Regions from separate parts of the Homo sapiens genome. Here region 2 is linked to region 1. The links come from fine-mapping of genetic effects on gene expression. Tissue or cell type: whole blood. Region 1 holds a variant in brackets; the other region holds the start of a gene. All regions are shown on one strand. Distances are between the middles of the regions.

The links. PIP is the estimated chance that this variant, and not a neighbour inherited with it, causes the effect.
Region 2: WDR6 starts here. The variant in region 1 is fine-mapped to the expression of WDR6 in whole blood (INTERVAL, PIP above 0.99).

What each region holds. Positions count from the first base shown.
Region 1 is chr3:48,302,392-48,310,495 of GRCh38, reverse strand. It overlaps SPINK8 (serine peptidase inhibitor Kazal type 8 (putative)), which reads left to right. Exons shown (of 8, transcript NM_001080525.3): 7 at 550-592; 8 at 3,493-3,654. The coding sequence ends at 3,504. Among named protein-coding and RNA genes, the nearest start is that of NME6, 5.1 kb to the right of the region's middle. The variant C/T (reference allele first, on the strand shown) is at 3,755.
Region 2 is chr3:49,003,417-49,011,520 of GRCh38, reverse strand. WDR6 (WD repeat domain 6) reads right to left here and starts at 4,130. Exons shown (of 6, transcript NM_018031.6): 1 at 3,990-4,130. The coding sequence starts at 4,089. It overlaps P4HTM (prolyl 4-hydroxylase, transmembrane), which reads right to left. Exons shown (of 9, transcript NM_177939.3): 5 at 7,261-7,423; 6 at 6,475-6,660; 7 at 5,654-5,744; 8 at 5,334-5,457; 9 at 4,368-4,834. The coding sequence ends at 4,614. RefSeq lists silencers at 3,456-3,635, 4,176-4,225 and an enhancer at 4,364-5,352.

The DNA.
Region 1 (8,104 bases):
TTTTTTTTTGGTAGAATTCAGTACTAAAGCCATCTGGTGTTTGTCGGGACATTTTTTATTACTGATTCAGTATCTTTACTTGTCATAGGTCTGTTGAGACTTTTTATTTCTTATTAAGTTTTGATAATTTGTGTGTTTCTAGGAATTTGTTCATTTCATCCAGAATATCTAATCTATTGACATACAATTGTTCATAGTATTCTCTTTTAATCCTTTGTTTCTGTAAGGTCAGTAGCGATGTTTCAGCTTTCATTAAATGCATATTTTAACTTTAAGACACATTCTTTTTCTAATCCTCTGTATTTCTACTTGAATTTTCAAAGGCTATTTTGAATTTCTGTATTTTATTGTAGACTGAGTATGTTTTCTATACTCAATGTCTTTGACAAATAAAAATTCATATAGTAGAATTTTTAAATATTTGCCAAGAATTCATTATTAGCAGAATGTTTATTTCCCAAACTTAGCCAAAGATTATCAAGTAAAATTTAGTCAGAATTTATGATATACCATACAGCAAAAATAATTTTAAAATATAATTTCTTTCAGATTTGAAGGGCTTAACATAACTAAACTGTATGATGGACAATGTGTAAGTAAAGACACTTTTATTTTTTATTTTTAGAAGTAAACTAGATAAGTTAAGAGCTCACTGTTTTAGAGGGTTTTAAATGTTTTGTTATGAACATTTTCAAACATACATAAAAGTAGAGCCAATAATAGATCCCATAAGCCTATCATGTGTATTCAATAAATTGTAATGTTTTGCCACATTTCCTCCCTCTATTCTTTTATTTCTCTGTTTTCTTTGATGAAGTATATTAAAACAGGTCTCAGACATCATGTTATTCACTCCTACATACTTCAGAGTTCCTCTCTAATAAGTTTGGACATTTCCTTACATACTCAGAAGGTCTTATTACAACTAATTATTTCATTGTCATCTTCTAATACATACTTCATATTCAAATCTCCCCAACCAAAAATAACACCTTCTGGAGGAAGAAACATAATTTGGCCTGATAATTCAGCTTAAAGAACATCTATTTCACCCTTGCTCTTCCCTGTCATTTCCAATATCTAGGATATTAATGAAAGACACTAATTGAAATGTGAACAGTTATTCTGAGAGTGAATGGGCCAGGACTTGCCGGAGCCCTAGGTCTAGAGATTGTGTCCCTGACTTCCAGGTTATAGTCCAAAGCAAGAACTCAGCTGAAGCCATAGAGATCATTATTGCATTATGAGGCGTGGCAACAAGACTGGGAGAAATCAATGTAGAAGAGAAAATAAAGACAGTAGGAGGTAAAGCAGGTAAAACAGGACAATTGTATAATTTAGTAATAATTTTATGACAATGTCTTCTGACACCATCTCCATGACAAACTCACAGGGCTCATCTGATTTACAGACCAGCACACATATTACTCACTTAGGGACGGTCAATTACCTGAATGTTCTCTAGTTCCACTAAAGAGAAATCACAAGAACTTTTAGACACTTTCATGATTTGGGGTAACTATGAAAAGATCTCACATAATTTCTACTTCTGTCAGATTCTTGCTGAGCTGGGCTTACTCATTAAAAATCCTGCTAAATCCCTCCTTTTATATCTGGACCGTACCTCAGTCTATGACTCTTGTCAAATAAATCTCTGGTCTTATATCCATTTTAAACTTTTAACTTCAAAGGGGTGGTTTTAAATTTAAGGATATCTATAGAATGGTGTTCAAAGTGTTCTAAGAATCACTTATGTGCCAAAGTAAAGACTAATATTTAACAGGGGAGAAGAGTTTTAGGGACATGCAGAAAGAGGGATTGGTAAGGAAGATATCACATCAGTATAAAATGATAGAATTTTCCCTAAATCAGAGCGATCCAGAAAAGAATTGTGCGGCATCCAAATACAGTGAGCTTCCTTTCATCACATTTGGACTAGAAAATCCCAAATCTTCTAGGGGAGATCCCTGTATCATGTTGGGACCTCAACAGTCTATTTAAGACAAAAATGCATTTTATTCATTTATTTCAAATGTAAACATTAATTGTGCCATGGATGAAAAGTTAACTATAGGAGACCACCTGAAAATTTTACTGCAGAGCACAATTCTGTCTCTCTACCAAGGCTCTGATGAAATTGTTGATATAATTAATATTGCTTTTATAAAGTAATTCAGAAAGCTTGGATGCCAAGGATTTGCAGAGATTAAGAATGCAGACTGGGCCAGGCACGGTGGCTCATGCCTGTAATCCCAGCACTTTGGGAGGCCAAGGCAGGCGGATCACAAGGTCAGGAGATCGAGACCATCCTGGCTAACACGGTGAAACCCATCTCTACTAAAAATACAAAAAAAATTAGCCAGTCTTGGTGGCGGGCGCCTGTAGTCCCAGCTACTTGGGAGGCTGAGGCAGGTGAATGGCATGAACCCGGGAGGTGGAGCTTGCAGTAAGCCAAGATCACGCCACTGCACTCCAGCCTGGGCGCCAGAGTGAGACTCCGTCTCAAAAAAAAAAAAAAAAAAAAAAAAAAAAAAGAATGCAGACTGAAGTCAGAATTCATTGCACAAACTCAGTGATCTAGAGCTAGTACCACTGACAGCTTTAGTTATTCTTATGTATAGGTAGTAAGCCCAGGTATCCCAAGTACAGAATGTGATGTCTGGGGAAGAGCGTTGAAGAAAAAGTCACAAATCTTTCAGTTAATACCTCTGTGACTCAGCTAGAACTCATCTGTCTGGGTTATCATGAAACTCAAATGAGATGTACACTTGAATGAACTCAAATGAGATATAGGCTTAATAAAGATATGTACTCATATATATGAGTATATAATTGCATTAAGAGCCAACCATAATGATGAACTACAATGAGCTATTGGCACCTTCCCCTAAATCAGTCCTTAGAGAATCAATTGGAGTTTGAGGAAACTAATAATTCCAGAAGAGGTGGGGGGGTGGGGGGCAGATAGGGAGGGAGAGAGAGAGAGTAGGAAGAGAAAGAAGAAAAGAAGACATGAAAATGGAGAAAGAAGAGGGATAGGGAGGAAGAGGAAGTGGAAGAAGGAAGGGAGGAAAGGAAGGAAGGAAAGAAGGAAGGAAGGAAGGGGAAAGAGAAGGGAAAGGAAAGGGAAAAGAGGGGAAGGGGAAACCTGAGACACTCTTAGGGAGATGGAAAGCTCCATATCCTCCAACAGGCCTCTGCCAGGACCCTGCTTCATGTCAACTCCACTGCCTCTATCCCCTCAGGAGTTCCCAGAGGCTCTCCTGGAGTCCAAAGTCTCACCCAGACATCCCCATCCTTTGCCTCTTTTCCACCGACTTTCACTCTGCTTTTTCCTTCTCCAGTGAAATTAGAATGTCTCTAACCTGCCTTAATTCAGAGAATAATTGTTTAGCATTTCCCCTGCTGAACTATGGTTGTGTTTACCAGTGTGGTGGCTTTTCTCTTAACTTCCTCAAATTTGATTTCTCTAAGCAGATACTTCTCTTGCAGGAAAACTCTTGAACGTACGACAAAGAATTATAAAACCTACTGAATCTCCAGATTGCCAAGTGAAACACAATGGTTGCCTCTTCAAATATATCCCCTTTAATTACTAATGGTTGGATCAAACTCGTTGATTTATGTCTTCAATAAATGATTCTTAGCAGAAAACCTGGCTGGCAAACATTTCTCTTGATTAATAAGAATCTTTAAAAAATATCAGATATTCTATTTTCTCATCCCCAAACTACTTGACTCATGCCATGGGTTC[C/T]CTCTGTTCTTACACAGATTGTAAGCAAATGACCACAAAAATCTAAAATCTTAGTAAGAAAAGCAAGCTTTCTGGTGTTTTTAACTTGCCCTGTACCCATTCTCCCTACCCCAACTCTGCTGTAGGCTTAAATTAAACCAGCCTTGAAATCATGGTGGAAACCAGCCTGCGAAAAGACATTCAAAGGGGAAGAACAGGTTTGGAGGTCCCCAAAAACACCATTTCCAGAAAATGATCGTTATTTGATTTGCCTGGCAGTTCCCTAGAGACCTCCTCCAGCTGGGTTGCTTTTTGGCTTTTTGTTTTGTTTTTTGTTTTGTTTTAACCTGACTGAGAGTTCTCTCACTGAGAACTTTTTCCCTGGGGCATCTGTCAAAAACAAACAGCCTCAATTTTTAAAATTTGCAACAACCTTAAGCAGTGATAACATTTGGGACAAACAAATAACAACAACAAAAAAAAAGTAAAAGAAAAAGCTGAGAATAGAATGTCCATGGAGCTTTTGAAAAGCTCTGGCATATTTCTAGGAATCTAGAAGACCAAGAGCATGAGCAGGTCTGTAATATGTCCAGGAGAATCTTTAGAAGGCCCTATGTGCTCACCTTGGCTGACTTTAATGCTCTAAATAGCAAGAAATGAAGTCTAAAGCAGAGTTGTAAACTGCCTGCCTGACCATTGAAGGCATGGCTCAATACATACAGAATACCTCGGCAAAGGCAGAAAGACTTATTGGTTCCAAGTATTTAAAAACACTATGTCCAATCATTAGATGACCACTAAACTAATGGAACAGAGTCTTCAATGGTTACACACTACCAAGAATACATACTTTAAAAAATTAATTGATAAAAATCACTACACAAATGAATAGCAACAACAAACCTGGGGGAAGGGGAGAATCTGATTTCCAAAGTTGCCACATTATGTTGTTTAAAACATCCAATTTTCAATGAAATATTGTGACACATACAAAGAAACAAGAAAGTCTGGCCCATACACAAGAAAAAAAGATCAGTCAATAGGAATTGTTGCCAAGAAAGCTCCAATGTTGGACTTACTAGACAAAGACTTTAAATCAGCCCAGGCAGGTGACTCATGGCTATAATCCCAACACTTTGGGGGCCTGAGGTGAAAGGATCACTTGAGGCCAGGAATTCAAGACCAGCCTGGACAACATAGTTGTCCTATCTCTACAAAAAAATTAAAAATTATCAGGCATGCTGGCACGTGCCTGTAGTCCTAGCTACTTGGGAAGCTGAGGTGGGAGGATTGATTGCTTGAGCCCAGGAGGTTTAGGCTACAATGAGCTATGATTGTGCCACTGCATTCTAGCCTGGGTAACAGCGAGGCCTTATTAAAAAAAAATACACATACATACATGTATACATATTTTTTCAAAGAGATAAACTATGTCTAAAGAAATAAAGTATAAGAATGATGTGTGAACAAGTAGAGAACATCATAAAGAAATTATTTTTTTAAATATAACTTTCTTGAGGTGATAAGTACAATAACTAAAGTGACAAATTCACTAGAGAGGCTCAATAGCAAAGTTGAACAGGTAGAAGAAAGAACAAGTGAACTTGAAGAAAGATTGACATTAACCAGTGCGAGGAGCAGAAAGAAAAAGGAACAGAGCCCTGGAAGCCTTTGGGATATAATTAAGCATAACAACATAAAGATAATGGTAGTCCAGGAAGGAGAAGGAAGAAAGAAAAGGGCAGAAAGATATTTGAAGAAATAATGACTGAAAATATCTCAAATTTTTCAAAGAATGTTAACATATGCATCCAAGCAACTCAGCAAACTCCAAGTAGGACAAACTCAAAGAAATCCACACCTATACACATCATAATCTCTGTCAAAAGCCAAAGACCAAGAGAGAATTTTGAAAGCAGCAAAAGAGAAGCAAATCATTAAGTACAGATGACCCTCAGTAAGATTAACATCTAGTTTCTCGTCAGAAATCATGGAGGCCAGAAAGCAGTAGGATAACATATTCAAAGTGCTAACAGAAAAAAAACATCAGCCAAGAATTCTATATCCATAAAGAAAATCCTTCAGAAATGAAGAAGAGTGGTGACTCACTCCTGTAATCCCAGCACTTAGGGAGGCTGAGGCGGGTGGATCATCTGAGGTCAGAAGTTCAAGACCAGCCTGGCCAACACAGTGAAACCCTCTCTACTAAATATAATTACAAAATTAGCTGAGTGTGGTGTTGCATGCCTGTAATCCCAGCTGCTTGGGAGGCTGAGGCAGGAGAATTGCTTGAACCTAGGACGCAGAGGTTGCAGTGAGCCAAGATTGCACCATTGCACTCCAGTGTGGGCAACAAGAGCAAAACTCCATCTCAAAAAAAAAAAAAAAGAAAAAAAGAAAAGAAAAGAAAAAAAAAGAAATGAAGGAGAAAGTAAGATGACCAACAAAACTAATAAAAACCGAAATAATTTGTCTCCAGCAGATCCACCCTGCAGGAAATACTAAAGGGAATACTTTAGGCTGAAGCGAAAGGACACTTAAATCCACAAGGGGAAATAAAGAGAACTGGTAGAGGTAACTACACAGTTAAAGACAGTATAAATATATGGTTTTGTTTGTAAATCTTTTATTCTCCTATATGATTTAAAAGACAATTGCATAAAGCAATAGTTAATAATAAATAATAACAGCCAGGCGCAGTGGCTCATGCCTGTAATTCCAGCACTTTGGGAGGCCGAGGCGGGCGATCCATCGCCTGAGGTCAGGAGTTCAAGACCAGCCTGGCCAGCATGGTGAAACCCCATCTCTACTGAAAATACAAAAATCAGCCAGGCGTGGTGGCAGGTGCCTGTAATCCCAGCTACTTAGGAGGCTGAAGCAGGAGAATCGCTTGAACCCGGGAGGCAGAGGTTGCAGTGAGCCAAGATCACGCCATTGCACTCCAGCCTGGGCAACAGAGCGAGACTCTGTCTCAAAATAATAATAATAAATAATAATAACAAATTATACGCTTGATGATGTGTCACAGGTTTCTGAGGCTCTGTTCCTCTTTTTCTAACTTGTTGAGATGGAGGCTTACTGAATTTCCAGTCTTTCTTCTTTTCTAATATATGTATTTTAGGCTACAAATTTCCATCTAAGCAAGGCTTTAGCAGTATCAATTTTTAAAAAATTGTATCTAAGTACAGTATACATACAGAATTCACATAAGCGTAGCATTGAATGAGGCACCTGGTCAGTACTGTTTCTAAGTGTTTAGTAAATGTTTTTTATTACTACTGTGAATTGTCCTTTGCCTCTTATGCCATAGCATCCTGGCAATGGGGAGGGGTTTGAGGGTGGGATGGTGAAGAGATTCTGGGATTCCATTTTATTGGAGCATTTTTTTCCCCTTGCTTCTCATAAGGTGTCTGTCGGGGAGAGATCTGTGTCACTTATTGCAGTTTGTTGCATGCTGGAATGCTGCAGATTCTGGAATGCCATCTGTATCAGTTGTCTGGAATTTGGTTTCACATAAGGTTCTTGTCTTCTGTTTAACTGGTTTGCTGGGACTTCTGAAGTCCTGATGATCATACTGGGAAGGCAGACTCAGGGGTGGCGATGCTGGCTGTGGCCCTCATCTGCTGGGCCATGGTGGTTATTGTGTTGCTTCTTTTGCTGTGTCCTAGAACAGGGGCTTTACTGAGCCACCCATGTCCTCTGAGAGCTTTGCAACTTACAAGGACTGTTCTCTTCCTTCAGGGGCTGGGATGACTTGCTGATTTAAGCCCCTTTGTTGAGATACAGAGGTATTGTCATAATGACTGGGACTTGTGTTGCTCATCTTTGAGGAAGATTTGTTTAGGCTTGCTGTTATCCACCATATCTTTTATTTAGAGTAGTTTGCTGGCTAACTCACTGGGTCCTTTGGCCTACTGCAGATTCAGTTGCTACAACTCCGTCAGTGATTCCGTGTAGGGAGAAGTAATGGGTTGTCATTTTTGGAGTCAGGGTTGGGGGCCTGGGGTTTGAGAATCAGGTCAGAATTCATGGGTTGAGGTTTAGGGATTTGAGGTTGGGATTAGGAGGTTAGAAGATAAGCATCAAGGGCTCAGGATCTAGAGACCAGGTCTAGGATTAAAGGATTATAAATTTAGGGACTAGGGCTTGGGTTAGGATTGGAACTGAGTAGCAGAGGAGTTAAGATTAGAATAGGGGGTGGTGGTCAAGGGTCTAAACAAAAAGAGAAGAGATGCAAGGGTCTGCGGAGAGACTGGAAAAACTTTCCTCGTAAGTTCCCAAAGGTGACTGGGTATCAGGAAACTATTGGGAAGTGGCTTCTTATTGCTGCAGGGACAGAAGCCATGAGTTGGGGATAAACCTTCCAAGAGG
Region 2 (8,104 bases), 700 kb before region 1:
ACACAATCCTGCAGCTTGAATCTTAGAAAATCCTTGGTCTCGGCCGGGTGCGGTGGCTCACGCCTGTAATCTGGGCACTTTGGAAAGCCAAAGCCAGACTCTGTCTCAAAAGAAAAAAAAAAAAAAGAAAATCCTTGGTCTCGGCCAGGCACGGTGGCTCACGCCTGTAATCCTAGCACTTTGGGAAGCCCAGGCGGATGAATCACCTGAGGTCAGGGGTTCAGGACTAGCCTGGCCAACAAGGTGAAAACCCCATCTCTACTAAAAAATTAGCCAGGTGTGGTGGCACGTGCCTGTAATCCCAGCTACTCAGGAGGCTGAGGCAGGAGAATCGCTTGAACCCAGCGGGTGGAGGTTGCAGTGAGCCAAGATCATACCACTTCACTCCAGCCTGGGCGAAAGACTCAAAAAAAAAAAAAGAAAAAAGAAAATCCTTGGTCTCAGCTTCAGCTGGACTTTCAGTGCTGACTTTGTGCTTCCCTCATCAGTCATTCTTTTTTTTTTTGAGACAGAGTCTCATTCTGTCGCTGAGGCTGGAGTGCAGTGGCACCGTGCAGCTCACTGCAACCTCCATCTCCTGGGTTCAAGCAACTCTCCTGCCTCAGCCTCCCAAGTAGCTGGAATTACAGGCGCCCACCACCACACCTGGCTAGTTTTTTTTTTTTTTTTTTGAGACGGAGTCTTGCTCTGTAGCCCAGGCTGGAGTGCAGTGGCACGATCTCAGCTCACTGCAAGTTCCACCTCCCGGGTTCAGGCCATTCTCCTGCCTCAGCCTCCCGAGTAGCTGGGACTACAGGGGCCTGCCCCCATGCCCGGCTAATTTTTTGTATTTTTAATAGAGACAGGGTTTCACCGTGTTAGCCAGGATGATCTCGATCTCCTGACCTCGTGATCTGCCCGCCTCAGCCTCCCAAAGTGCTGGGATTATAGGCGTGAGCCACCAAGCCCGACCAGTTTTTATATTTTTAGTAGAGACAGGGTTTCACCATGTTGGCCACGCTGGTCTCGAACTCCTGACCTGCGGTGATCCACCCACCTTGGCCTCCCAAAGTGCCGGGATTACAGGCGTGAGCCATTGTGCCCGGCCCCCTCATCAGTCACTCTTTTTTTTTTTTGAGACAAAGTCTCACTCTGCCGCCCAAGCTGGAGTGCTGTGGCGCGATCTTGGCTCACTACAAGCTCTGCCTCCCAGGTTTACGCCATCCTCCTGCCTCAGCCTCCCAAGTAGCTGGGACTACAGGCATCCGCCACCATGCCCGGCTAATTTTTTGTATTTTTAGTAGAGACGGGGTTTCACTGTGTTAGCCAGGATGGTCTCGATCTCCTGACCTCATGATCCGCCCACCTCGGCCTCCCAAAGTGCTGGGAATACAGGCGTGAGCCACCGCGCCCAGCCTCATCAGTCACGCTTGATGTTCACTTCAACCACAAATTTCTCAAACTCAGAGCCTCCTCCTCACCTCACTTTTTTTTTTTAATTAAAAAAAAAATAGAGATGGGGCCTGGCACAGTGGCTCACACCGATAATCCCAGCACTTTGGAAGGCAGGAGGCTCGCTTAAGCCCAGGAGTTTGAGACCAGCCTGGGCAACAGGGCAAAACTCCACCTCTAAAAAAATTATACAAATGAGCTGGGCATAATGGCGCATGCCTGTAGTCCCAGCTACTTGGGAGGCTGAGGTGAGAGGATCTCTTGAGCCCAAGAGGTGGAAGTTGCAGTGACCTGAGATTGCACCACTGCACTCCACCCTGAGCAATAGAGCAAGACTCTGTCTCAAAAAAAAAAAAAGTAAAATAAAATGAGAAGGATTTTGACAATGCAAAAAGAAAATAAAAGATGTAAAATGAGAAAGTCTAATCCAGTGGTTCTCCACAGGGGGCAACTTTCCCCACAGGAGACATCTAGCAATAGCTGGAGACACGTACGGCTGTCTCCAGGGGTTGTGCTACTGGCAAGTAAGGCCAGGGATGATGCTAAACATCCTACAATGCACAAACAGCATTCCAACAAAGAATTATCTGGTCTAAAAGGTCAATCGAGGCAAGATTGAGAAAACCCTGGTCTAATCTAACAAGACTGGGTGAGTGTAAGGGGAGGCCAACTTGAGGACACAATATTTAGAGTTAGGATTCAAGGATAAGCAGCAGTTAGCCAGAGGAAAGGAGGCGGAAGAGGGGGACTGGGAAATGTTGGGGCGGGGGGGGGGGGGTGGGGAGCAATGGGAGGGTTTGCAGCTTTCTTGGTGGAGAAAACAGCATGTATGATTGCCCTGAGATGGGCAAGAGCATTGAGTATGGTGGATGGAACAGGAAATGAAGAGCTCAGGAAGAGGCTAGAGAGGCCGGGTATGGTGGCTCATGCCTATAATTCCAGCAATTTGGGGGGCTGAGGCAGGCGAATCACTTGAGGTCAGGAGTTTGAGACCAGCCTGGCCAACATGGTGAGGCCCCATCTCTACTAAAAATACAACAATTAGCTGGGCATGGTGGTGGGCACCTGTAATCCCAGCTACTCCGGAGGCTGAGGCAGGAGAATCACTTGAACCTGGGAGGCGGAGGTTGCAGGGAGCCGAGACCGTGCCACTGCACTCCAGCCTGGGTGACAGAGGAAGACTGTCTCAAAAACAAACAAACAAACAAACAAAAAACACACACACACAGAATTGTAGCTATATAAAAGTCACTTTGGAAGCCACAGAAGTAGGTGAATTCACTTGCAGAGCTTCTTAAACTGCATTTCCCAAGTTATTCCCCACCTTAAAACCCTTCAATAGGTTCTCCCCACTGCCCTTAGGGATAAAGTCAGATCAAGGCCTGAAACAATGTGGCCTCTGCTCGCTTGTCCAGCTTCCTTTCCTCCCAGACTCCATTCCTGCTCTAACTTCACAAGAATTCCCTCCTTCCCCCAAAATGACAGATTCTTCCAGCCTCAAGGCCTTTGGCATGCTTACCCTCTTGCCAGGAACTCACCCCTTTTCCTAGTTCACTCTTGTGGTTCTTTGAGTTTCTGCTTCGTTGTTCCCCCTCAAGGAGCCTTAGGAGTTTAGCTCGCGGTAGGAACTCCGCGCTCCAAGAACCCCCACACCAGATCAAAACTGGATCATCCCCACCCCATACACACACCCTCTTAGGACTGGTGGCAACTCACTCAAGGCCTGACCGCCAAGGCCCTGCCTCAGGACCCTTATACAACTCAGCAGCACCAACATGGGTCATTAGTGGCTTCATGTAATGACTGTTCGAGACCAGCCTGGACTCTGACACCTCAGGTCCCAGGCCTCGCCTGTCCTTTGCGACCCGGTTCTCCTTGGAGGGACCTCCACACCTGATTTCCTGGACCTCAACCATCTCAGGAGGGGGTCTCAGCCCCTGCTTCCCCGGGCACCGCCCCCTACTCGGAAAGGTCTTATCCGCCGTTTTCCGCGACGCCACCCTCCTCAGAGGATCTTCACCCCCACCTTAGGGGGAAGAGACTCATCCCGCCCTCGAGAGGCCACACCCTTGCCCTCTCCCGGCCCCGCCTTCCCCAAGAGGCCACACCCCCTGAGGGGCCGGGGCCGCCTCCGCCTCCTCCTCCTCCTCCTCCCTCCGCCCCCCCCAGCTCGGCCCCGTCTCCTTCGGAGAGGCCAAGCCCCCGCCCATCTCCTAGAAGGGAGCACACCCCCTCAACCCTCAGCTCCCGGGCCTCCGCCTCCGCCTCCGCGCGGCCGCGTTCCCCTGCACCCTCCCGCGGTTCCACCCGCCCTTTCCACGCGGGCTGAAGTTTATGAAGCGCCGCGGCGGCCACATCAGCTTTGTCTCTCGGGCCCCGCCCTCTTCAGGTTGGCCCTCGTCCCCGCCATCTCCGGGGCTCCCTTCCCACCTCCGATCGGCCTCAACCTGCTGCCCGTCCTTCTCCTCAGGGCACCCCTTTTGTCCCTGTGGCACCGCCCCTGGGAGGCGCTGTTTCTTTCCCCCTTTCCACCAGGCGTGCCTCAAGCCAAGCCTCACCCGCCAACAGCCGGTCCCCCACGCACTCCAGACCCGTCACTGGGAGGAGTATAAGCTCCGAGGTTGCCCGCGGCCAAACGTAGTCCTCGAGAGCGTCCATGTCGATCCTCGAGGTGCTGAGGCAGCCACGGCTAAGAAGGGAGCTGAACTCTCGCGAGAACGAGCCTTCCCAGCGCGCCGCGCTGCCCATCAACAGCGCCCTCAGCTACAGGTAGCAGAGACCAGGGCGCCCGCGGCGGTTGTCCAATGACGACCCTTCGTCCCACGCAATCCAGCTCATCATTGGCGGGGCCCGCGGAGGGGCATCCCGCCCCTCGCCCCCTCACGTGACGCTTGCGGGGCGCTCCCAGCTGCCAGCCCGCTGCACCTATCGCGGACTCTGTTTCGCCGACCCGGAGTTTGTCGGGCCCGGCGGCTCGAACCTTGTGGTTTTTTATTTGACGGGGCAGATGGAGTCAGTACACAATAAATAACATGAATATAGGAACTGCGCCGTATCGCGGCTGGCGGGGTGGGGCAAGACATTGGCCAGACCTTTAGTCTGCAGCAGGACAGAAGGACAGCCGGACCCCTGATCTTGGGCAACTGGCGACCCGCGGCTGGGAACCGGGGCTAACTCTTCCCTCAGAGTTCCACGCGCGCATCGCGGTAGGCCCGGTCCAGAGCCCACTCGGGCTGTGAGTCGGTGCCCCCTTCTCGGGCAAGGCGGGCCATCTCCTGTTGGAACAGCGCTTGCCGCGCTCGGCTGGGGTCCACATTAATCCAGTTGTTGGCAATCCACTTGGTGCCGCGCGTGACCAGGCAGCCCCCGTGCAGCGAGTAGTCGTCTACGTCACCCACCCAACCTAGAAGAGGAGGGTGACGTGAGATCCTAGGCTGGGCTGGCCAGAGCTTGGCCTCATAGGCACCAAGAGCATGACCAAGGTGGGTCCAGCTATGCATTCCTTGTGTAGCAAACACCCAGACCTAAAGCTTCCTTGGAGGCTCCTCATCTCAGCCCACTAATGTATAGTCAACACTACTGGCCCTCTGAAACCAGCTTTCTTGCTGTTGGGCCTGTCCATATCCCTTCCCATCCTGGGTTAGCAAGGGACATGTGTCCCAAGCCCCAGGGAGTAGGAAGGCTGGGGCATCAGGGAATGATAGGGATGGATATAACCCAATAAGCAGTACAGGTCCTGGGGCAGTCTGCTAAAGTCACTAAGGATGGCCTTTGGGAGGCACCAGGAGCAGAAAACTATTTGGAAAGCAGCCAGAAACAGCCCTCCATTGTGGCAGACGGGGGCTGGGTAAAGGGAAGCTGTACTCAGGGCACCCCCCCCAGGCCTGGCCATAGGCCCTCACCTTGCCCATCAGGCAGGTAGTTGTACCAGAAGACTGCTGTGCCCTGTTGGGGCTTGACACGCAGGTTTCCCTTGTCACAGTGCCTCCGTGTGTCACGGAGGTCCACGTCATCCTGAATCAGACTCTGTGGGCAGCAGGGTGGTGGGGTGTTCAACCTGTCCCCACTCTATGGCCAGGCCAGCCAAGGGTGACCAAAGGGAAACCAACCAGATATGCCCAAGGAATAATTTGGGCCCACATCCTTAGACCTGGAGAGGTGTGTACTTCACTTGTCTAAGCCCCTGCCAGCCCACAAGAGTAATAGCCCAGTTGACCCTTACCATTTCATCGTAGGTTCTGTTATCTGCTACAGGGAAAACAGTCTCGCCCCCACCAGTGACGTTGTTCAAATAAAACAGCACTGTCATGTAGCTGTAAGGCAGGGGGGGCACTGAGCAGGTCCCCAGTTGTGGATGCTCCCAGGGGCTTACCTGTGGGCAGGATAAGCTGCCCAGGTTCCTGTTGCCAGGGACCAGGACAGACTAGGATGGGAGACAATAGGGCAGGCCAGTGCCAAAATGTCCCTAGCCCCTCCTTCCCCGAAACCCAGTCTCTTACTGTGAGTTGCAATGGTTTTTTGGCCAAGATCACAGGTGCACTTAGTTAAATGCCATGGCCCTGAGCAAGGGCCTGGCAGGGAAAGGTAGGCTAGCAGAAGCAACAGGGCGCGCTGAAGGGCTCCTTGGGGATGGGAAGGGGCTGGGCCAGAACAGCCACCTGAAGAGGAAAGAACTGGCTTGACAGGGGAGGGAGGCACAGCTTCAGCTTCTCTAAGTGGAATCAAGATCAACACCTGGAGGAATGGGCAGGACAAGCTAGGGGCCCAGCCTTGCCCCTTGCTTCAGAACTCAGGGGGCAAGTTTTGGTGTCTGTGGGTACATCAGTCTGTGTTGACTCCAGTGGTCACGATGACCAGTAGCCACCCCTTTCCAGCCATTGGGTAAACAACTTGTGGGGAGAGGTGAGGGCATCACTAACCGGGATAACCCAGTGATCTCCTGGCCCCATGCCAAGGGGCACGCCCACAGTGCAGGGCTGTGCCTGTGTCATGGGTGTTCCTGGTCTGAGGATTGAAGGCAGCCCCCAGTTGGGAGATACTTGCCGGCAGGAGGTCTCGAAGGGTACAGACTCGTTGGCTACCAGCTTGGTATGGGAGCAGATGGTCTCTGGGTACACAGGCCCACTGTCCACGTGGGCATGGTAGTGGCCCCCCTCACCATATCGAACAACCTGCAGCGGCTCGCTGAGCTCCACGATCTCAGGCGACAGGCGAGTGAGGCGCAGCACCCTGGTGGGCAGCAGGCATTTGGCTGGGCAGCCCCAGGCAAGGTGGTGATCTGAAGGAGCTGGCCAAGGTGGACCCTAGGCCTGCCACAAGCTTTGCCCCTACCCACCTCCCCTGGAAGTCCCTTAAGCCATCTCAGACTGGCCCTGTAAGAGCAGGAGGGGGTTACTCATGATGATCCTTCTCCCTCAGATGCCAAAGACAGAGACACCTGCTATGTGGAAATGTTGACATTTCCACTAAATAAAGGGGGCGGGGAGTCCTGAGGTCCTCCTCCCTGGAAGAAAGTTGTTTATTTAAAAACCCTTTTCCTGCTGTGACGGGGTCAGATAAGGGGTCAAAGATAAGAGGTCATTTATCTAATCAGAAAGAAGTGCTCAATCTCTATCTAACCCCAGTTGCCCATTGTGTGCCTGCAAGGAGGGCTAATTTGCCTTTGTTAATTGCCTGTCTTTCAGTGGGTCCCAATCCTGGTCTAACAAATGGAACTTAATCCCAAATGGGTTAATCCATTCTGTCCTCTTGGCCCCAGACAAGGACTTCTGTGGAGGCCCTGCCCAGTCTTCTCCCCCTGCTCCAGTGAGAACAGCTTCAGGTGCTCACCTCTGGCGGATGGCACGCATGATGTGGTGGGCACCCTCACCCTGGTAGAGCCAGGTATGGTGGCTGTTCCGCACCAGCTCACTGGACTCTGCCTTGTGGCTCCTCATGTACTTGTGGAAGTCCCGAAGGTCCATGTTGGAGAACTCCTGCAGACTCAGCACTCCTGCACAGGGCACCCACCATCAATGCCCACCAAGCCCATATTGGGAGGCAACAGTGGCAGGCTGCACTTCCCTACCTACCCCAAAGGCAGCAGCAGCCCCTGACCTCAGGCACTGAGGGGCCTTGTACACTTGTCCCCCACCTGGACTTTTGGGTCAGATGAACCTGGTTTCTGTCACATCAGGCCTTACAGGAAGACCCAGAGCAGTTCCTTTTCTCAGTTTAAGCCCTAATTTGGCCCTAAGAAGAAAGAGGCCCACCCCCTATTAGAGTGGCCAGAGAAGGTTCTCCAAAGGAAGCTTGAGCCATATGGCCAGGACCCTGGCCTTCCAGCCTGGCTATATAGAGTGGTGGCCACTCTCCGGCCTGTGGAGGGTGAGGAGAGAGCAGGCAGTGCTGGGCCTCATCCAGGGCCTTACATACATACGCCAGGGTGCAAGCAGGGCCAGCCCCCGGGGAGTTCCTCATGACCCCAGGTTTCATCCTGGGTGGAACCTACTTCGCCAGCCCTGCCTACTGCGTTACCAGCCCACCTTAGCAACGAAAGTCAGGCCACCCCCTCTCATGAGAACATTCTCCACTGTCCCTGCTCAAACCATTAAGCAGGGGTTCTACCCTCTTGGGGTTCTGGAAGAGTAGTTGGTATCTTTGCTCCATGTTATTCTGGCTGACCCAAGGACAT